7 linked regions of the Homo sapiens genome follow. The protein of the gene in region 5 purifies or fractionates together with the protein of the main gene of each other region. This does not show direct contact. Each region holds a gene or a part of one and is shown on either strand. Other genes may lie near its edges.

Evidence for each region.
Region 1: the proteins of NPY2R (region 5) and SLC35F1 purify together in Homo sapiens (affinity purification with mass spectrometry; 2 studies listed by BioGRID and IntAct, with this or other methods). This does not show direct contact.
Region 2: the proteins of NPY2R (region 5) and EXOC6 purify together in Homo sapiens (affinity purification with mass spectrometry; 2 studies listed by BioGRID and IntAct, with this or other methods). This does not show direct contact.
Region 3: the proteins of NPY2R (region 5) and BTAF1 purify together in Homo sapiens (affinity purification with mass spectrometry; 2 studies listed by BioGRID and IntAct, with this or other methods). This does not show direct contact.
Region 4: the proteins of NPY2R (region 5) and FLT4 purify together in Homo sapiens (affinity purification with mass spectrometry; 2 studies listed by BioGRID and IntAct, with this or other methods). This does not show direct contact.
Region 6: the proteins of NPY2R (region 5) and MMS22L purify together in Homo sapiens (affinity purification with mass spectrometry; 2 studies listed by BioGRID and IntAct, with this or other methods). This does not show direct contact.
Region 7: the proteins of NPY2R (region 5) and SLC25A17 purify together in Homo sapiens (affinity purification with mass spectrometry; 2 studies listed by BioGRID and IntAct, with this or other methods). This does not show direct contact.

Annotation. Positions count from the first base shown.
Region 1 is NC_000006.12:118,277,764-118,281,263, forward strand, and holds part of SLC35F1 (solute carrier family 35 member F1), read left to right. Parts: intron 1-3,500. UniProt on the Homo sapiens protein: Putative solute transporter.
Region 2 is NC_000010.11:93,054,520-93,057,254, forward strand, and holds part of EXOC6 (exocyst complex component 6), read left to right. Parts: intron 1-2,404; coding exon 2,405-2,517; intron 2,518-2,735. UniProt on the Homo sapiens protein: Component of the exocyst complex involved in the docking of exocytic vesicles with fusion sites on the plasma membrane.
Region 3 is NC_000010.11:92,028,270-92,031,769, forward strand, and holds the end of BTAF1 (TATA-binding protein-associated factor 172), read left to right. Parts: intron 1-520; coding exon 521-664; 3' UTR 665-3,168; downstream 3,169-3,500. UniProt on the Homo sapiens protein: Regulates transcription in association with TATA binding protein (TBP). Removes TBP from the TATA box in an ATP-dependent manner.
Region 4 is NC_000005.10:180,643,101-180,646,600, forward strand, and holds part of FLT4 (vascular endothelial growth factor receptor 3 isoform 1 precursor), read right to left. Parts: intron 2,680-3,500; exon of another isoform or gene 2,056-2,679; coding exon of another isoform or gene 1,767-2,055; intron 1-1,766. UniProt on the Homo sapiens protein: Tyrosine-protein kinase that acts as a cell-surface receptor for VEGFC and VEGFD, and plays an essential role in adult lymphangiogenesis and in the development of the vascular network and the cardiovascular system during embryonic development.
Region 5 is NC_000004.12:155,214,606-155,217,576, forward strand, and holds the end of NPY2R (neuropeptide Y receptor type 2), read left to right. Parts: coding exon 1-480; 3' UTR 481-2,471; downstream 2,472-2,971. UniProt on the Homo sapiens protein: Receptor for neuropeptide Y and peptide YY. The rank order of affinity of this receptor for pancreatic polypeptides is PYY > NPY > PYY (3-36) > NPY (2-36) > [Ile-31, Gln-34] PP > [Leu-31, Pro-34] NPY > PP, [Pro-34] PYY and NPY free acid.
Region 6 is NC_000006.12:97,144,439-97,147,216, reverse strand, and holds part of MMS22L (protein MMS22-like), read left to right. Parts: intron 1-329; coding exon 330-411; 3' UTR 412-2,778. UniProt on the Homo sapiens protein: Component of the MMS22L-TONSL complex, a complex that promotes homologous recombination-mediated repair of double-strand breaks (DSBs) at stalled or collapsed replication forks.
Region 7 is NC_000022.11:40,809,347-40,812,846, reverse strand, and holds part of SLC25A17 (peroxisomal membrane protein PMP34), read left to right. Parts: intron 1-3,500.

The sequences.
Region 1 (3,500 bases), on a different chromosome or scaffold from region 5:
ATTGCCAAGATGCCATTAGGGGAGACACAGAAGTGTGTTATTAGGTTAAACACCAACAGAAAAAAAAAACTGGCCTGAGGCAGTGGTAGCACATAAGTGACAGCAATTTGCCTTAGCCAAGAAACACTAAACTGATGTAACCATTAAAAAGTGCTACTTTAGTAAAGGGAAAAAAACTGAACTTAACAAAAAGCCATGAAAGGAAACAATGTAATGGGCATTCTGAGCCCATAAAAACCTTTCAGAAGGGAGCAGTTTGCACGAAAGAAATGGTTAATTGGTCTCCAAATGGATTTAGAAAATACCAGACACGCTTTGAGCTAGTTAATAGTCATCCAGGACTTCTCAGGTTCCACCTGTTTCTAAAACCACTTTCCTCAAAGAAATTTAGGACAAGGATTTAAGATCCTAGGACATGCTGTAATGATCAATCTCAGCAAGCCCTAAAAGGGACTGACATTTGCTACCCTCAGAAGGTGTCTCCACAGTGAGCACAGAACGTGGCTTATGGAATTGCATGGAAAATGTGTGCAGAGTGAATGTAAGTGGCAGGGAGGGGGCTACAGACTCTTCCCCACACTGAAGCTGGCTGCTTGAGCCATCTCCCCCTTATATGACCTTTGATACAACTTTAGCCAAATTCTGTGTCCATAAGGAAACACAATAAAAACATAAACTCCCGTGCATCACTTTACCTACCTGTCCCCATCCCCTAAGCATATGAGGCCAACTTACTGCAGACATCATTCCCTCTGAAGGCACATTGTGAGCCACAGAACTGTGCCTGACTCTCCCTAGGGTTTCTCTCTAGTGACTTCGAGGGCTGACCAGCCTTGTGTCTCAGAGTCCTGCCATTTAATTTCTCTCCAGTTGTGCTACAGAATTATATAATTAAATGAAAATCAACAGGGCAAGGAGAGAGAGAAGAGGAGGGCAACAGGGAAAGGAAACCAGTTGCATGTTACAGAAAGCATTTGTCTTTGTGACCCACAACACCAGAAAACAAAATGTTACCTGTGCTTGACAGCACTTCACATGCAGTGGTCCATGAGTATAAATTAATTTTATATTGATGGTAATAGTAATGATCAAAAAGAATTTGTCCTCAAACTATGTGGATGCCATGTGCATATCCACTGAGGTTCTGTTATAATTCAGTGTTAGTTAAATGAGTCATCAAAAGATAGTTTTATTCTGAGCTCTCATATTGCCATTAAAACGTCAGTCCCCTATAGTTGAAGATGATGAAGGACAGTGTAAAAGGAACACATTACAGAGCCATCCATTTAATTTCTGATTGGAAATGAGGCCAAAATGGCCTCCATAGCACAGTAGGGTGAATTTAGTTAACAATAATTTATTGTGTATTTCAAAATAGCTAGAAGAGATTTAGAATGTTCCCAACACACACAAAAAAATTAATCAATGGTTGAGGTGATGGATATCCCAAATGCCCTGACTTGATCATTACACATTGCATGCATGTATCAAACTATCACATGTACCTCATAAATATGTACAATTATTATGTATCAATAAAAAATGGCCTCAAAGGGGAATCAAATACTCATCTTCCTCTTTCTGAAGCATTTGTAGGGTTGCGTTTGGGATGTGTTTACACCAGGGCCTCCTTGGTCCTCATTATCTCGCCCTGACCTACTGCAAGGTTGTGTTGTTAGCTCAGTTCTAGACACATGGCATGCAGGGGATAAATGTTTACTAAGTGAGCAAATGAATGAATGGCAAGCAACAAAGATGGTCCTATTCTTTCCTCTCTCACCTCACAAAATACAGACAAAAGGGAAGAAGTGGAGACAATGGCAGGAGACTTTAAGCTTGACATTGCACTTTCTTTCTGTGGAACTGGGAGATGGCATAACAGCCACTGCAATTCATGGGTCACAGAGGCAGGGAGATATCAAGGGAAGGTCAGCACCCTCTCAAACCCACCCCACACTCCTTGAGAAGTCACCCGAGAGGCCAAGCTCTGATGACTATGTCCTGATGGAAAGCTCACATTCTTCTGTTTAGGAGACCAGAATCCAATAAGCCTTCATTTCTCAGCATCTGTCAATGAATTTCTCTGCCTCCCCACTTTCCACATTAGTAATCTAACCTCATATAATCTCTTGGACAACTCATGTGGTTGCCATTTTATCAAAGTGGAAAGATGGTTGTTGTTGTTGTTTTCCTTGGGGTTAATAAATATGTTTTCTATTTTTTCCTTTGGGATACATGTTTTCTATTTTCTTAACCCGAAGCACTTTTAAAAACAGATTTTGTTATTTTCCTACAACACTGGCCAATTGCAAAATATAGAGCAATTAAAAGCAAGAAGATAATAGTTATTGTTGTTTGTTTTTATTCCATTGTTTTACAGTACTGAACAGAAAGACTGATTGTGATTATCTAATCAGTAAACTCAAGTAAAATGTATGATCGAATACAGCTAAAAATACCCTTCTGGGGAGCAGGAATGTTAGAGTCACATTCATAAGTCTAATAAACAACTTAAACATTCCCTTTACCCCACGGGTCATACTGTCATACTGTGGGTCATACTGTGCTAAAGGATGTGTGAACAAGTGCAATCAATGTGAAAGTCAAATGTCAGAGAAAAGAAAAAGTGTGCCGGGTCAGTGAGCACAGGCTTGTGGTATGCAGGGGCCTTCTTCACTTTTGATGTTGTGGTTGATGCTTGTCTTGGTTTTGGTTTTAGTGTTTTTCCTGGAGGCCAAAACAAAAGAAAGATTTGGCCTCTCCCTGAATATGGAATAATGGGACTACAGAGCAGGAAAAGACCTAAAGGATAATTAAGAATACACCTTTCCTGGCCAGGTGCAGTGGCTCACACCTGTAATCCCAGCATTTTGGGAGGCTGAGGCGGGCGGATCACTTGAAGCCAGGGGTTCAAGACCAGCCTGGCCAACATGGTGAAACCGTGCCTCTACTAAAAATACAAAAATTACCTGGGTGTGGTGGTGCATGCCTGTAGTCCCAGCTACTCAGGAGGCTGAGGATCACTTGAACCCAGGAGGCGGAGGTTGCAGCGAGTCGGGATCACGCAACTGCACTCCAGCCTGGAAACAGAGCAAGAGTCTGTCCCAAAAAAAAAAAAACAATACACCTTTCTTTTTACCCATGTTGAATCTGAGGCCTAGGGAGTTGAGGTGACTTGACGAGCATTACATATCTGAGCAAAGCCAGCCCAGTGCCCTTTATACACTTAACCTAATGCATATGTTCTGAGAAGTCATCTAACCTAGCTATTGTTTTTAAGAATTACAAATAATATTTTAAAACTCTGGTATGTTCAAAATAAAGAGAAAGAACACAACTGAAATCCCAAAGAAAAAGACGAAATCAAATATATGTAGCATATACAGACACATACTTTATATATATATAGTAACTCTCTCTCTCTCTCTCTCTCTCTCTCTCTATATATATATATATATAAAATATTAACTGAGGTATTGATAGGAGTCAAATAGGATGTT
Region 2 (2,735 bases), on a different chromosome or scaffold from region 5:
CCTGTAATTTCTGCGGATTTGCACATAAGAGATTTGCATATGAGTATCTGACCATATGTGAACATTGTAAGCATAGTGTTTCTTTATCCAGGACAGTCTGGTCTTGTGCTGTAAAAGAATCAATTCTGTATTCACAGTTGGAGTTGGTGCGGGTTTTTCATTCATTAAGTCGGCTCCTCCTTTCCCACTTGGGGGTAAATCAGCCTAGAGAAAAAGAGCCTTAAGAGGTTGCTTTCTGCTGACACTGTGCATTGCACATGCACAGTTGTGCAAATACACACATATACCTGAAAGAAGAATCCTTGAAAATGAGGCTTCTGTTGACAACTCTGTGAGGGGTGTTCATTATTGAAATTTATTTTAATATATAAATATATAAACCTTATTTATAACTATAGTATTAACACATATCCATTGTAGAGTATTACAAAAATAAAGAAAATAACAGTTAACCTTAATCCCACCACATAAATGACAATCATTCTTTTTTAAAAATTACTATTTTAGAGGTGAAGTCTCATTATGTTGCCCAGGGTGGACTCTTAACTCCTGGGCTCAAGTGATCCTCCCGCCTCAGTCTCCAGAGTAGCTGGGACTACAGGAACACACCACCATGCCCAGCTTATAACCGGCATCCTTAACGTTTTTGCAAATTTTCTTCCAGTCTTTTTGGATGGGTTTTTATGTAACTTAAGTAGCAACATTTATCATAAACATTATCCCAAGTTATTTAAAATTCTTTGTAAACATTAATTTTAATAACCACATGATAGTCATCATACAGATAGACCTCACTACTTAACCAGTCTCTTAATATTGAGATTTAGGCTATTTTCAGTTTTTGATAACACAAATAACATTTTTGAGATTAATATCTTTGTGCATAAATTTTTTTCTGTTTCTCGAAGTTGCATTCCAAGAAGTAGGATTGCTGAATCAAAGGGAATGGCCACTTTTATAAGGTTCTTAAACACATTGCAGAATCACATTCCGGAGACGTTATACTAATTTACACTCTTACCATCTGAGTGTATGAAAGTAACTTTTCCTCTTTGTGAAAGGAGGGAAAAATGTGGCCAAACAACAGTTAAAAATTACACAGAACTTTAAATAAGTTCCCTTTTCTTTTTCAGACAGTATATTCTTTAACATTGTCTCAGTATAGTTTCTATCCTAGTGTTTCAACTGTTGGTATGGCCCAGAATGGTATCTTGTCCGAAAGAAAATAGAGTGGCTTTCCATAGTTAATATTTTCATTATAGAATTTTCTGCCTGTTGCAAGAAAATCTCTATTAATACCTGTAAATTGGATGGGGAAATAGTCAAGCAAGTTCTTTACCTTCATCAAGAAAAGCTAGTTTCTGGTGACCTTTCTTTATGAGGTTTTAATCACCCCAGAGTTTTATCCCTCTCAGAGTCAGTGGTCGGCTCTTGTATCCCATGAGTAAATGCAAATGTTTCCTCCATTTGAAAGCAAAACCAGTAAGACCCCTTACTTATAAAGTGAGTTAAAACAAAAAGAAAGAATATAAAAACTAAAGGAAGGTAGTAAGTAAAGCATTTAGCTTTCTGAAACAATTCAAATGGGGATAGGAAGTTGGTTTTAAATGGCTTAAAGGGGATTAGGGTTTTAAAGTTGGATAAAGAGTTTGGTGCTTAGGTTTAGGCATGGCATTGCTTTTAAAAGATTACTTCCATATTTGACAATGATTCTAACTGGAGATTATAAAGTAAATAGTCAATTTTAAGACACCACGGGAAACAAGAGGGTTTCTTTTTTGTTGTTGTTTGTTTATACAAAATGGTAGCCTAGAGTTAACAGGCTGAATCCTGAAGCCCTCATTTCATAATACTACAGAGGATCTATCACCAGAGAGAATCTAGCAGAGGTTGTTTAATGCACTTAATTGAGATTATCTGAGCTTTTGGTTTAAATTACTTTGGAAAAAGTCTTAGGTGCAAACAGCGTCCTTGAAAGGTAAACATACTTACCTCTAAGAAAAAAAGGTTCAATTTAAGTTCTTTAAAATTCTTCATACAGGTTAGTAGCACCAACCTTTATTAATTAAATCTGGGTACTGACTAATGCATAAAGATAAAATTTCTATACATCAGTACAAGGGTTAATATATATTATATTAACATTGTTTTCATTATTTTACAATTATTTGAAAACATGAAGTATTTTACTAGAAAACAACCCCTGGCATTTTTAGTAATTTCAAAGTAAAAAGATCTATTTTGATTGTAAAGTACAGTTAATGAAGTTTTAAAAATGAATTTCCGTATTCTGTTCCATCTAAGAAGCAAGCCATATTAAAATGGACCAAGGATAGCATATAATTTAAGTATTAACTGGGTAAATAATCAAAAGTTGATTTAACATTTCCCCCATCTTTCGCAGCTCCTTGACCTGTTTATGGTTTGGGATTGGTCTACTTACCTAGCTGATTATGGGCAGCCAGCTTCTAAGTACCTTCGGGTGAATCCAAACACAGCCCTTACTCTTTTGGAGAAGTGAGTATATTCTGAAACTTTTTTGTATAACATTTTAGCACCTTTTGATTCAGTGATAAACTGAAGAACTAGAGATTTCTGTCAAAAAAGAAAAGTCTAGATGGAGCTTAAAAGCTCACTCTAGTTTAATGACCAAAAAATAAGCTTTTCTTTCTTGCCCTTCAGAGTTGGTGTAGTTTCATAAGCAACTGCTGTTTATATTGATGTGAACAAAACAT
Region 3 (3,500 bases), on a different chromosome or scaffold from region 5:
TGGCCTATTGCCATAAAAGGCACTATTTAGACAATTGGCAGAATTTGAAAACAGACTGTATATTAGAACATTTTAATATCAGTGTTAGATTTCCTTAATCTGATCTTTATATGGTTATGTAAGAGAATATTCTTGTTCTTAGGAATACATGCTGATTCCTCTCAAAGGATAAAAGGACATGATGTCTACAACTTTCTTTCAAATTGTTCAGAGAAAAAACTGATATCTAACTATATTTCTGACATCCATATATACATACACATATATAAATGGGGAGAGAGAATGATAAAGCAAATAAGTTCTTTGTTATGTTCTTATAATTCTTCCATAATTTTGAAGTTCTTTCCAAATAAAAAACTGACAAATAAATGTATTTGGAGATCATGAATTTCCCCATCACTTGAAGTACTCAATTCTGTTGAATAATTGTATTAGAAACAAGTGTGATTTTAAAGGAAAATACAATTTGTGAAGTTAACCTCTCATTTTATTTTTTTTTTTTTTGCCAATTTTTCTTAAGGATGGCAAAGCAGAAAAAGCTGACACCTCTACTTCTGGGAAAGCAAGTATGAAATCAATTCTTGAAAACCTGAGTGATCTTTGGGATCAAGAGCAGTATGATTCAGAGTACAGCCTGGAAAATTTTATGCATTCTCTCAAGTAACTATCAAATATTGTAAATGCAATTGCTGCTAGTTCAGTTACATTTCTGCTGATATTCAGCAAATTTCTAAGTTTATGGTGAACTTTTAACTCAATGTGTAAATAGATCTGGAGAATATTCAGCATAATGCTGGCTCTTGTTTCACTGGGGGAAACAAGTTATTCTCAAATATTTGCACTGTATTAAATTTAAATGTTAATGTGAAATGGTTTAAATTTTACATGCTGAAAAGCTGCAGAGCAGAGGAACCAAACCAGGTTTATTTGTGCTACCAGGAGGTGTTCTTAATGGGAACAGGCCTCCTATCTTTAGTCACTTTGTACAGGATGATATCCATGAGTACTTTAGTGTTTGTATATGTTTTTTCTTTTAAATAGAACTTGTTTTTATAATTGATTTAAAATAGGGCTTTTTTTCTATAAAAGCCTTAATGAGCCATAATTTTAAGAATATAAGAATAATGACTATGATATTGGTCAGTCTTAGAACATGAAAATGTCAGACAATGAATTTAATCGGGCCCTTGGTGGAAACATTTATATATTTAATGCAGATGCATAGTGTTTTTCAAATCTTTAACATCATTTTTTCAACTTTTAAGATATAATATCAACTATTCTAAATACAGGTAATGGTATATTTAAGGCTACCATAACATCCTATTTAGAGGGTGGTTTTTTTTAATTTATCTAATGGCTACGATATAGCCAGATTCAAATAACATATGTACTCAATAGGTTTCAATCATATATATAATATATTTTTTGTAACTATGAACATACACAGTTTTCCAGAAATAGATTTTACACTGTTTAGAATTCCAACACCTACAGTGGAAAGACTGTTTATTGTAGTAATGCATGGCTGAAGCATAAAAGGGAGAGAGAATTTCTTTATATACACAAACATACATGAATATGCATATCTATATGCATAGATGTACCTATCCTGCACCCAAAAAGGTGCCTGGTATTGGCACTAAAATCATGTAGTTATACTGGGCAGCAATAATAATTGGGCATGAGGCTGATTACTCAATGGTGAGGGTAGGTATATGTAGATAGATGTGCATGTATGTGTTTGTATATATAATTTTATAAGTTTCACGCATAAATTAATACATGCCTGTGTGCATACATATGTATGGGATATATTTGTATATATATGTACAGGTAATAAACATCCCCAAGGTTTGTGGCTGGCCATACACATAGGCATCAGTTTAACAACCATCAGACCTCAGCTGTACAATAACAGGTGTTTTGTTTAATTAAAATTATACTGTTCTGCAGCATTTAGACATTTGTCACATTTCATTAGCTTTGACAACCATACTGTAACATTAAACCTAGCATTCCACAAGAGAATAAATATAAGATTGAAACTGTAAAATATATGCAACTGTGTGTTATTTGTAGGAAATGGTCACTAGAAAGAGCAAAAGATTATTCAGGTATACAGGTTTTTTTTCATTGTTTAGGATTTTAACTCAAAACTTTATGTAGAACATTTCAGTATATTTGAGTTGAATATTTTTTTATTAACTATTTATTTGCTAGTTCCATAAACCAGCTCTTTAACATAGCTTATAGTAATTGATATTTTCTTAGAATAAGTACAGAGCAATATATCATTAAAGGGCTATGAAGGGGCAAAAGAAATCACACCATAAAAGTTAGTACTTTTTCCCAATCTGAAATGTCAGATAGAGCTAGAAGTCAGATATTTAGGCTGTTTAAACTTTCTGAGAGTTTAATCAAAAGGTGTGTATTTCTAGAAGGATGACTAGAAAAATGATGTGTGGTTGCTTCTGAATGGGAAACAGGAGTCAGAGCTGACAGGAAAACTTAGAGTGGCTATAACATTTTTAAAATAATCTTTTGAGTTGTAAAATAGTAAATCACACATTCCAACTTTTCCATAGAAAGGAAAACATGTAAACAGGTAAGAACTAAGTATTCTTAATTAAATGACCCAGTCATTGTAGTACATCTTAAGAATAATGAAGAGATGTGGAGAATTGAACTGAGTAATGAATGATATTAAAGAACTGCTGTCAATTTCATGGATGTGATGATTTGGTAGTTTTTTCAATGTATGGGTGTGGGAAGTCAAACAAGCATGATAGAATGTTAACTATTTTAAACTGGGAATTGGGTTCATAGATATCCATTGTACTACTTCCCTTGGTTTTTGTGTCTTTATGATAGGAAATAGCAAACTGTTAAAAATATAGATTCAGAGATTATTAGTCTTATCATTTGGGTTTCTTGTAGGAAAATCTTAACATTTGGGGGCCTGGGTATAATTTTTGTTTCATATATTCACTCATATATATGCTTATTGTATATGCTTATTTATTCTACAAACATTTCTCCAAAAAGTATTCTAGTGAAAGGGTAAAAGTCTTTGATGTTGGGACTGATTGAACTGGTATAGCCTTATTCCTTCTGGATGGTTTATATGAACTTACTTATTCAAAAGTAAATATTCCACTGAAGCTATTTGAGAATGTGATCACTTATAGACAAAAGTGGAATTCGAACATAATAGAAATTATACAAAAGTAACAAGCACTCCATCACACATCTGTTCTAAATATTTAATCCTAATAGAATCTTCTATGTCCTGCAGACCTCCCATGCTGGCACCAGTGGAGTCTAAAGTGAAATTGGGCTGGGCACGGTGGCTTATGCCTATGAGAGGCCAAGGCAGGAGGAGCACTTGAGCCCAGGAGTTCAAGACCAACCTGGGCAACATAGGGAGATCCTGTCTCTACAAAAAAAATACAAAAATTAGCCAGGCACAGTGGCATGCTTTTCTTGTCCCAGCTACT
Region 4 (3,500 bases), on a different chromosome or scaffold from region 5:
TTGCATTTCTGCATTTTACAAAATGTAATCATCTCTTCCATCAGCGTGGGAAACCCTGCTCTCCCTCCCACTAGGTTGGCTGTCCAGGTGATGCTCACCCACCAGACATTCCTGACCCCGCTCATCCCCCACAGCCAATCGGTCACCAAGTGCCTCCATTCTGAGCTGAAATGGGCTTTGCAGACTGAGTAGGAGCGGGCCCAAGAGGAGGGCACTGTGGGTGGGGTGGCTGAGAGTGCCAGGCCCCTGCCCCCACCTCTCCTCACCATCCTGACAGCAGCTTGGCGTGGATGCTTTCTGGCCGCAGAACCCCTCCCGGGCATTGCAGGCGTGCTGTCCCTCCACTTTCCCTCCTCCCCTCCCCGCTGCTGGCCAGCCTCAATGGCTCTCCCCCCGGGTGGCAATACCAGTGTCTCCCACTGGCCCAGTCCTTGCTCAGGGGTCAGATGATCTTTCTAGAACACAAGTCCCTCTCCTGCCTAAAACCATCCCCTGCCCCTTTGCTGCTTATGGACAGAATCTGGTGCCTCCTTGGCCTCCTTGCCACCCACCCGGTGCGGCTCCAGACCTCCACGTGCCCTAGATCTGGAACAGCCCCTCCCCACCTCTGACGTCTGAGCTGCTGTGCTGCTTCCCCAGCGTCTCACACCGAGGCTCCCCACCCAGGACTCCTGCACTTTTCCATAGCTCTGTGGAGCGGCCGGCTCATTACCACTTTTAACAGGTTTTTTTTTTTTTTGAAGTGGAGTCTCGCCCTGTTGCCCAGGCTGTAGTGCAGTGGCACGGTCTCGGCTCACCGTAACCTCCGCCTCCCAGTTTCAAACAGTTCTCCTGCCTCAGCCTCCCGAGTAGTTGGGATTACAGACGCCTGCCACCGCACGCAGCTAATTTTTGTATTTTTAGTAGAGATGGGGTTTCACCGTGTTGGCCAGGCTCTCAAACTCTTAACCTTGTGATCCGCCCGCCTTGGCCTCCCGAAGTGCTGGGATTACAGGCGTGAGCCACCATGACCCGCTCTTAACGGTTCTTTAGTTCAAGACAAGGGCTTCTGTGTGTCTTTTCGTCGTGGCATATTCCCAGGATTGGACTTAGCCAGCAATTTACCCATGGCTGGTTTTGAGGATCCAAGGGACCAAAAGAAGCCATAGTATGTGTGGGCAGGTGTAGGCGTGAGCGGAAAGAGGGCACAGGGTACCGGGAGGGTGGAGAGGCTGTGCACGGAGGGGCACGCCGGGCGTGTGGTGGACCTGGGGGAAATGTCTGCAACATGCTGCTTTGTAAAGGTCTCTGGGACAGCAAAGTAAAAATGGCCATGAGGTGGTTAGAAATTGAAGAGTCCACCTGGCCAGCCCTCTAGGGCATTCCCTGGGGAATGTGGACAGTGGCCTGTGTGCCTGCCCCTTCTTTCCCGCTTGGCCCCCATGCTATTTGGAACCAGATGTCAGACACCTATTAACCCCCTGAAATGAGCCATCTATTATCTAGAGAGCCGTTTCACCCTTGTGGCCTGAATTTCCTAATCTCCAAAATAAGCATAATAAGGTCTGCGTGACGAGGTTAAAACCTGTACGTGCCCTGCTGTGAAGCAATCTGAGAAACCATTTCACACGGAGGTGTGGCCCACTGCCGGACACGCCACATCTGTGTGCATGTGCCGGTGCACGCTTGCTGCTTAAAACAAATCAATCTCCATTTGGTAGAATTTAGAGTAGCTTCGAGGACAGTGTGTTGAGTTGGGTGATGATGGGGGCTTCCCCTAAACCCACCTGAAAGTCTGAGGCACACTGTGAGCGGGAACGAAGCCATCACCTGCCCCGGAAGGCCCCTTCCGCTTGGAGCAGCACCGTCTGCCCGGAGTTCCCAGCAGTCTCCCAAAGGGCACGTCCAGGGTGGGCGAAAGGCCATGGTGCTGGGGCTGGTGTGTGCAGTGGGTGGAGGCTGGGTGGACGCGGGGCTAGGGATGGCCTGGGACTCCAGCAGGAAGGGCCGGTACCACGAGCCCAAGAAGCTGGTGCTTATCTTGTGGGTGAGTTGGGGGGGGCCCTGAAGGCTCATTTACAGCAGTCCCTTTGGGGCAGAATGGAGACAAATTTCTGGAAGATGCTGGAAACAGGGAGTGGTGATGAGGTTGAGAAGGGCTGGACCTGCGGGGAGCGTGGGCTGCCTGAGTGCCCCGTGGGGGTGGAGACCAGGAGGAGGGGGCCTGAGCAGATGCTAAGCTCCCAGCACACGGCCGCCGTGGGGCAGCCAGCTATGCCAGGCAGTTTCCCCGGCTTCCGTGGGGTCAAGGCTCTGCTTGCTGGCCGGCAGGACGAGCGGCGTTATCAGACAACCCAGCTGGCGCAGAGGTGGCCCCCCAGTGCTGCTAAATCGGGGCCACCAGCTCCTGCCGCAGGAAGAGGGAAATGCAGGCAGGATGTCCTCTCCTGTGGCCGACAAGTCCTTTCCCATGAACCCCTGCTGACCTCGCCGGCCACGTGGCGGGCCTCCCCTACTCACCACCTGGATCTACCCAGGCCTGGCCGTGGGCTAGGGTGGTGCGGGCCTCAGACAGGGCCGGGGGTGTGCCTGCTGTTACCCCGTCCAGCCCGGCCAGGGCTGGCGCCCTGCTCCTCCTCCGGGAATGAATGCCCGCATCTTCCTGCTCCCAGACCTGTCTCCTCAGTGTGACCGGAAAACCCAGATTCCAGAGGAAGCCAGTGTCTGAAAAGGATCGAAACTCAGGAATCCCTGGCTCCAGCTGGACACACTGACTGAATCTTGCTCAGAGTCTAGGGGGTGTGAGAGGCTCTCCAGACCCCTCTCCCTGCCCACCCCCAACTCCGAGGGGCATCTCAGAGGGACGTGGGGCACAGGCTAGGCCTTGGTGGAGAGAAAACTGCCCTGTGGAGGAAAATACGGCAGCAGGAGGGGAGTAAGCCAGACACAGAGAAGCACCTCCCCTTGCAGCTGATTCGCTTAATTTCCCTGGTTCCCCCATTCCCCTCTGTCCCATCATACTCAAGTGCTCCCAACTTTCCTCCCTCCTTATCTGGCCGGGTGCATCAGCTGAGGTCTCCGAGGAAATCCCATTGCCTACCTCCACCCAAGGTCCTGCTCCTCTCCCAGGGTCTCCCTTTGATAAATTATCCTTGAAGCCAGAGACCTGGGACTTCCTCTGTCCCCACCATCCCCAGCTGCTACCTGCCTCCACCCCAGTTTATCCCCTGGGTTATCCACTTGCAGTTCCTGTCTCCCCTGGACACCAGCCTCCTTGCTGCTGGCACTGCCGCATCTCCAGCCTCGTTTCCCCTACCTCCCATCCACTCCTCCCAGACTCCAGCCTCACCGGACCACCCACTTGGCCACATTCACCATCTGGACTTGCCTGTCTCTGGGGCTTCATGGGGTTCTTTGCTCTGCTTGGAATTCCCTGTCCTGGAGTTCTGCAGACCCCACCAGGAAGCCCTTAGCTGGAAGTGACACTGCCTTCCTGTGCAGCTTACAGCCACCAGCTGGGC
Region 5 (2,971 bases):
TCCTTGTTGATCTTGTATGTTTTGCCTCTGGGCATTATATCATTTTCCTACACTCGCATTTGGAGTAAATTGAAGAACCATGTCAGTCCTGGAGCTGCAAATGACCACTACCATCAGCGAAGGCAAAAAACCACCAAAATGCTGGTGTGTGTGGTGGTGGTGTTTGCGGTCAGCTGGCTGCCTCTCCATGCCTTCCAGCTTGCCGTTGACATTGACAGCCAGGTCCTGGACCTGAAGGAGTACAAACTCATCTTCACAGTGTTCCACATCATCGCCATGTGCTCCACTTTTGCCAATCCCCTTCTCTATGGCTGGATGAACAGCAACTACAGAAAGGCTTTCCTCTCGGCCTTCCGCTGTGAGCAGCGGTTGGATGCCATTCACTCTGAGGTGTCCGTGACATTCAAGGCTAAAAAGAACCTGGAGGTCAGAAAGAACAGTGGCCCCAATGACTCTTTCACAGAGGCTACCAATGTCTAAGGAAGCTGTGGTGTGAAAATGTATGGATGAATTCTGACCAGAGCTATGAATCTGGTTGATGGCGGCTCACAAGTGAAAACTGATTTCCCATTTTAAAGAAGAAGTGGATCTAAATGGAAGCATCTGCTGTTTAATTCCTGGAAAACTGGCTGGGCAGAGCCTGTGTGAAAATACTGGAATTCAAAGATAAGGCAACAAAATGGTTTACTTAACAGTTGGTTGGGTAGTAGGTTGCATTATGAGTAAAAGCAGAGAGAAGTACTTTTGATTATTTTCCTGGAGTGAAGAAAACTTGAACAAGAAATTGGTATTATCAAAGCATTGCTGAGAGACGGTGGGAAAATAAGTTGACTTTCAAATCACGTTAGGACCTGGATTGAGGAGGTGTGCAGTTCGCTGCTCCCTGCTTGGCTTATGAAAACACCACTGAACAGAAATTTCTCCAGGGAGCCACAGGCTCTCCTTCATCGCATTTTGATTTTTTTGTTCATTCTCTAGACAAAATCCATCAGGGAATGCTGCAGGAAACGATTGCCAACTATACGAATGGCTTCGAGGAGATAAACTGAAATTTGCTATATAATTAATATTTTGGCAGATGATAGGGGAACTCCTCAACACTCAGTGGGCCAATTGTTCTTAAAACCAATTGCACGTTTGGTGAAAGTTTCTTCAACTCTGAATCAAAAGCTGAAATTCTCAGAATTACAGGAAATGCAAACCATCATTTAATTTCTAATTTCAAGTTACATCCGCTTTATGGAGATACTATTTAGATAACAAGAATACAACTTGATACTTTTATTGTTATACCTTTTTGAACATGTATGATTTCTGTTGTTATTCCTATTGGAGCTAAGTTTGTCTACACTAAAATTTAAATCAGACTAGAGAATAATTTTTGTGGCATGTTGTAACATTTCACAGTATTTACAAGCTATTTTTGCACAGGTACATAGCTCTCATGTATTTAAAGAACACTGCAGTGTTATTTTCTTTGAAATTCATCCTCCACGGACCCATTCATACTAAATAAAACAATGTAATTACATTAAAATGGACCTATCTGTAAGAGGTACTAAAAACACTGGATTCATTTCATCTTGCAAATGTTGTATTTCAAACCAGTTTCACATAAGTTATTTGTCTTCTTTTCAAAATAATTAGCTATATTTTTATATAATATGAATATATACATAAAAATTGTTTCTATAAATTGTAGAACATAGATGCTACAGTATTTTTTATTTAATTATATTATGAATAAAATTGTTATTTCAATAGTACCCAACCAAAGATGCTTAAAAACCTTCTATGTTCATAAAAAATAACAACTGAGATGTTAAAATAGTCATACGTCTTTAGATGCTATTAAAGTTTCATTAGTCATATTTTTGTAAATATGACAGAATTTGTGAATATATTTTTAAAGCAAAAAACTTCAACATGCATATGATATATAGTTACAACATTAATTTTATGAACTGGAGAGCTTTACTTTGTGGATATATTTAAAATTCATATTATAGCTCCTATTAAATTCCTTCCATGATAGATATAAAGGACTGGTTTTTAAGTGCACTGCACTTCTGGAATACTGAAAAAGAATGAAAACAATATGTTAGATTAGGTGTAAGACTTTAAGAAGCGAACAAAAAGTAATGTATATCTGTAATATATAATCAAATGATTCATTTTTCTGTTAGACTAGGCAAATTGTTCAAAAATAACCTTTTTGTCTTTTAAGTAGCAGTCACTTTGCTTAAGATGCTAATAGAAAACTGTGGTTAAAGATTTACCCTCCCTCTTGGTGAATTATTACACTGTAAGAAATGTATATGCTACTGTGTTACATGTTGTATTAGTAAATTATTAGAATCCAATTAATGATTCAATTAACATATATCTTATCCAATTCATTATGTCAATTCATTAATAAAATACCTTTTATGTAGAGGCTTTATGTTGCAATTAAAAAGTTGGGAAAATGAGAGAAATTGTGTGGAATTTTATATCAGAGTGCTTGTCTAAGACAAGGCAGTAAGACTAATGCAACTAAAAAAGAAAAATAAGGGCTGCTGTTCCACAGTTAGTCCAGCTCTCTTTCCATTCTGTACCTGAACCTGAGTCAATGGATCCACTCTTACGACTGCAATTACAATACATAATATGAGGATACGTGGATCTTCATTTTTCAGACAAGACCTTTCTTCTTAACTTCAATTCTGTATCTCTACCGGCCAATAGACCATGTCCACATGGGTGTCTCACCAGCAAATCAAATCTCAAACAGAACCTGCCATTTCAATGCACACCTCATCCCATCTCCCCTCCACGTTGTCTTCCCGTATTCTCTGTCTCAATCATGACACTACTATGTACCTATTTCCCAAAAGCCTTACATTTTGGAATCACCCTTTACAAGTCTCTTTATCGCATGTATCTAATTAATTCCCACATCTTGTTTTAATTCCTACGTGTTTCTTTAATC
Region 6 (2,778 bases), on a different chromosome or scaffold from region 5:
TCATACCATCATTGTCCTTAAATAATATTCCATGAATGCATTTTATTACCCGTGAGCATTATAATATTTCGGAAGGTTAATGAACTTTTACATGTCATTTTTAGCACACATTTTATATATAAAAATCATACTTTAATACATCTTAACATCTAGGTTTACTCACAATAGATATAAAGCATTACTTTTTAAGAAGTGTTGTGCTAAGCCTGCTGGATGGATGGCTGAATAGATGGATGGATGGATGATGGGCAGACTTAATTTGTAAATACTGAAATGAAAAATAATGAAAATGTTAATATATTTGCTTTCTTTTCTTTTTTCTTAAACAGGGAAGCCTATAGCAAACTTTTGTCTCACCTTGGACAGATGGGACAAGATGAGATGCAGAGACTGGAAAATGATAATACTTAATATATTTTGTGATTCATCCTGTCTATTAATTATCAGTATCTAAAGCCACATTGTTCCACTCTAATTCCTACTTTTAATTAATTGTATAATGTTCTGTTTAAAATAATTTCTAGGATTTTTTTTCCTTTTATATCTGTAAGTAAAAAATGTATAAATAAGGAACTGAAGGTTAATTAGCAACTGTGTAATAGGATCCTTGGAACTTTTTACAAAACTGCATTCTACCTTGATGAAATTTTAGTTAAACTAAATTAAAGAAACATTTTCTGAGAGTGTTTTCTGTGTGTGAGTATTAAGCAGATACTTCATCCATAGACTTTTTGTTGTAGTATGACTTCCTGCCTCCCTGCCTTGTGACTGATTTGTCATGTTTATTTTTTATTTTTACAATAATAGTTATGTTTTAAAATGATACTTTTTCAAAGTACCTGGCTACCCTATACTGTGTTTTTGGTGGGGGAAAGGTGTTGGGAAATGTGACTGTGTATTTGTTTTTCTTTTTTATATGTGTGAGGCAAGTTAACAAAGAAAACCCTTACAAAGCACACTTAACTGTGTTAGGAATGAGACTGAATCTGGCTAAAGGATTATACAGCTGATATCCAAAAAGAAGTGTAAACATGCCAACAGGGTTTATATTTAGGTTCCAAGAGTTGCCAAATTTTTTTTTTATTCATCCTTTCTTTTGGAGTTGTCATTAAAAAAAAAATCATATCAGGAGGAGGAAATAAAGGAGACTTTAAGAGGAGAGTAAATAAAAATATTCTAGAAAAGTAACAATAGTAGTGGTCTGAGAAGTCAGCTGATCCATCTTCTTGCTCTTTAGCCAGAGCTTCTTATAACTTAGCATTTTATCCAAGAAACCTGTTTAGTTTCCTTTAACAACATTGTTTCTCAACTTTTGAACTCTTAACTCATCCAGATTGTTTTACCAGTTGGAGCTTGTCCTTGACTCCTTTTCCTATTGAGCATTATTTGGTTGAAAGAGCTCCAGTCCTAGTTTTGGGAACCCACCTGGGTCTCAAACTCAGCTTTGCTTTATGATCTTGAGCTAGTTACGTAACCTTTCTCAGTCTAGTTTCTTCATGGAGAAGAAAAGAAGAATCCCTTTACTATTTGACAGTGTTGTTGTGAGAATCAATGGGATAATGTACGTGAAAATATTTGGTGGCCCAAATTCTGTTGGGAAATGTACAGACACGATTAGTTTATTACTCGTGCACAATTAAGGCAAAGAACACCTCTCAATTTTATCTTTCTCTAATGATATGTCCCAGATGAATGATCCCACTTTCCAATGTTTTCTTACATCATGTTTTCTAACTTTGAAGTACTTTGTTTCCTTCTTGGGATTATAGTCTTTATCATGGTTCTACTCTTCCTTCAAGAAAACATTTCAACCCTTCTCTGGCTCAAGGAGTATCTTTAAAAATGAAATACTTTGCAATCAGTATTCTGTAGTTAATAGCGTTCTCTTAATTATAATCTGTGAAATCCAAAGGAGTGTCTGTTATTTTCATAACATATAAATGGTCCTTCTCTCAAATCAGCTTCATCAAAGGGAATAAATGAAAGCTTAAGGCTGTTTAATAGACTTCATAACACTGAATTTCTTTTCATCATGATAGTGACTTACTAAACAAATAATGTATGGCTTGGAAAGTTCCAGCAGTCACTAAGGAGTTTTATCTATTTAAGGTGATGCCTTTAAAGAGGTTATTTATGTGTATATGTGTTTTTGTGTGTGTGTGTGTGTGTGTGTGTGTGTGTGTGTGTGTGTGGGTTTTTTTTTTCCAAAGGAGATTGATAAAGATACCTTTGAGAATCTTGCTCCTTAGAGTATGAAAACGTTTAAAGGATAGGAAAAGCTGCTACTGAATCATGCTTTAGGACATATATCTATAGATACTAAGAATAACTAAAATTTGTACTTAAGAATGGTAACAACAAAGTGTGTAACAATATGTGTGTGTATTATATGTTTTGTATTTATGTATAAGTAACTTTTTTTAAAGCTTTTTTTTAAATTGAAAAAAGAAGAAAATTTATGGCTCAGTTCCTTTTTTTTAAAATCTTCACTGATCCTTCACTTATTACTACAATCTTGCCCTCTTTCATTCCCAGACTTGGAGTCCCTTATACCTGCTTCTTTAATAGCCACTTTCCCTAAATACCCTGTAATTTCTGAGGCTGCTGCTTCTACCAGTGTAATACAAGCCATTGTCTTTTGGTCAAATCTGAGTTTGTTCTCCTTTCTCATGTTCTTTGTCCTCTCTGTGACAATTGTATTTTCTTTTATCTTCCCATCATTTCCACAATGGTACTGCTCCTTCCTACATATACAGTTGACCCTTGAGCAACACAAGT
Region 7 (3,500 bases), on a different chromosome or scaffold from region 5:
TTCCCAGGCTGGAGTGCTGTGGGATGATCACAGCTCACTGCAGCCTCAATCTCCTGAGCTCAAGCCATTCTCCCACCTCCTAAAGTGCTGGGATTGCAGGTGTGAGCCACCGTGTCTGGCTTTAAAATAATCTTTCTGTTCTATAATGCAGTGTTCTAAATCAGGAGAGGCTATACATTGATTTCAGTGGTGCTGCTGTGACTCAGCCACGTCGGGACCCCTCTGGAAACTGATTTTGGACTAGCATTGTCTTTTTTACCCCCACCACTAGTTTTCACCCTGCTAGGATGAATCAACATTTTAGAAACAGTCAGTCACATTTGGTGATTTGGTTGGTATACCAACCCAAACATCATTGTTTTATGCTTAAAAGGCATGAAAATATGCTTCTGTATTTATGTATGTTCTTATCTATTATTCCCATAAGATTGCACACGCTGGGGGGACCAAGTCTTGACCAGATTTACCCAGTGTTTCATTCTTACTCTATCTGTAAGCCCAACTTCATATGTGGATTGTGTTGACCAAATTAAAAAGTATACTTTAGATATTTACAGGAGAGATATAGCCCAGAATGAATAAACCATCTTTTTTTTTTAGTAAGTAGCCTGAAATGTAGATGATGATGCATTCTTAAGAAATCCAGGTGCCAGGCTGGGCGTGGTGGCTCACGCCTGTAATCATAGCACTTTGAGAGGCTGAGGCAGGCAAAACACTTGAGGCCAGGAGTTTGAGACCAGCCTGGGCAATGTAGTGAGACCTCATCTCTAAAAATAAATAAGTTAAAAAGAAAGAGAGAGAGAGAGAGAGAGAAAGAAAAAGAGAAAAAGAAAGAAATCCAGGTGTCAGTTCAGAATTGTTCACAAAAAAGAGGAACCCCCAAATCCCCAAGAACTTAGGCTAAAAATCGTTTATGTGACTGATACAGTTTGGATGTTTGACCCCTCCAAATCTCAGTTTGGATGTTTGACCCCTCCAAATCTCATGTTGAAATGTGACCCCCAGTGTTGGAGGTGAGGCCTAGTGGGAGGTGTTTGGGTCATGGGGGCAGATCCCTCATAAATGGCTTGGTGCCATCCCCTTGGTGATGAGTGAGTTCTCACTGTTAGTTCATGGGAGAGCTGGTTATTTAAAAGAGCCTGGTACCCACGCCTCTCTCTCTTACTCCCTCTCTTACCATGTGACATACCTGTTCCCCTTTCACCTTCCACCATGATCATAAGCCACCTGAGGCCCTCACCAGAAGCAGATGCCAGCACTGTGCTGGCTCATACCTGTAGTCTCAGCTACTCAGGAGTCTGAGGCTGGAGAATCACTTGAGTCTGGGAAGCCAAGGTTGCAGTGAGCCACGATTGCACCACTGCACTCCAGCCTGGGCGACAGAATGAGACCCTGTCTCAAAAAAAAAAGAAATCTAGAAATAAAATGACTACAATTTAAAAGTTACTGCACGATTGGCCAGGCTCATTGACTCACTCCTGTAATCCCAGCACTTCGGGAGTCTGAGACGGGTAGATCACTCGAGGCCAGGGGTTTGAGACCAGCTTGACCAACACAGTGAAACCGCATCTCTACTAAAAAAAAAAACAAAAATTAAAAATAAAAGTTAATACATGATAATCATGGGAACACTGAATATTGATTTAAGCAAAAATCTTAACTATTAGAAGGATGGAGAGAATAAAGAGAGGGATTCAAGACCAGCCTGGGCAACATGGCAAAACCCTGTCTCTACAAAAAATACAAAAATTAGCTGGGTGTGGTGGCTCACGTCTGTGGTCCCAGCTACCTGGGAGGCTGAGGTGAGAGGATTAATTGACCTCCACCCAGAGGTGGAGGTTGCAGTGAGCTGAGATTGTGCCACTGCACTCCAGCCAGGGCAATAGAGTGAGACCCTGTCTCAAAACAATAACCACAAAAAAAGAGGGAATGTGGTATAAGAGAGCTGAATTCTCATTCCCCATAAGAGAATGTAAATAATGTCTAAAAATGATTAATAAGATATCAGTATATTATTATATGGAGATGTATAAATTCCAAAACAAACAACTAGAAGAATTTAATTGCCTCTCTGAAGGAAGATTGGATAAAATAGAGAGGAGTGGGGCAAAAACTGCTATATTTTGTCATTTATACTATGTGATTTTTTAAACTATGTGCATGCTTTGCTTTGATCGATTAAAAATTTACTATTAGAATATTTAATGCTCGGTGGCTTACGCCTGTAATCCTAGCACTCTGGGAGGCCAAGGTGGGCGGATCACCTGAGGTTGGGAGTTTGAGGCTAGCCTGACCAACATGGAGAAACCGTGTCTCTACTAAAAACTCAAAATCAGCCGGGCGTAGTGGCGCATGCCTGTAATCCCAGCTACTCAGGAGGCTGAGGCAGGAGAATCACTTGAACCCGGGAGGCGGAGGTTGCAGTGAGCTGAGATTACGCCATTGCACTCCAGCCTGGGCAACAAGAGTGAAACTCTGTCTCAAAAAAAAAAAAAAAAAGAATATTTAATGCATAGCTATGAATTTGTTAATTGTTGAAGCTTAGTGATATGTTCAGATTCAAGCACAGATTTCTGAACATATTAGATACAGCTGAAGATGCAATTAATGCACTAAAAGATAGGGACCACCAGTATACAAAAAGACACTGTTAGCACTCTGGAGATTCCAAGGGTCTTGGATGCTCTTGTATCAGGAACCAGGGACTAAGACACTATTATAACAAAAGACATTCCTATCATTCAGGAAATTACAAGAATTTTACCAGGAGCTCTGTGTCAGGAGCCTAGGATGAGGACCAGATATATACTTTGCATCATAATATCACAGCCCATCATTTTAAAAAAACCCTAATAAATGATCATCTGTAAGACATTAATTGTAGGATATAATTAATATCCTATATAATATATAGCTTCCTGGAGGTATTTACCTTTTTATAGAGTTTTCCTGGAAAGGACAGTGGCCAACCCAGAGGTAGTGTGATGATGTCAGGTTAGATGATAGTATATAATAATGAAGTTTGTTAATAATGTATTTTTTTTGTAGTTAATGGCCTCTGTTCAAACTATACTCATAGGACCCATTCACACTCCTAAAAATTTTCACCAACCCCAGAGTCTTGCTTATGTGGTTATAACAATCAATATTATTGTGTTAGAAATTAAAACTGAGAAATCATTGAGATATTTGGTTTTGTTTTTTGGTTTTTTTTTTGAGACAGGGTCTCACTGTGTACCCAGGCTGGAGTGCAGTGGCACAATCTCAGCTTACTGTAGCCCCAACAGCCCAGGCTCAAGCAATTCTCCCACTTCAGCTTCCCAAGTAGCTGGGATTACAGGCGTGCACCACCACGCTGGCTAATTTTTTTTTTTTTAATTTTTTTGTAGAGACTGGGTTTCTACATGTTTCACCATGTTGCTCAGGCTGGTCTCGAACTCCTGGGCTCAAGCAATCCGCCCACCTCGGCCTCCCAAAGTGGGGTTACAGGTGTGAGCCTT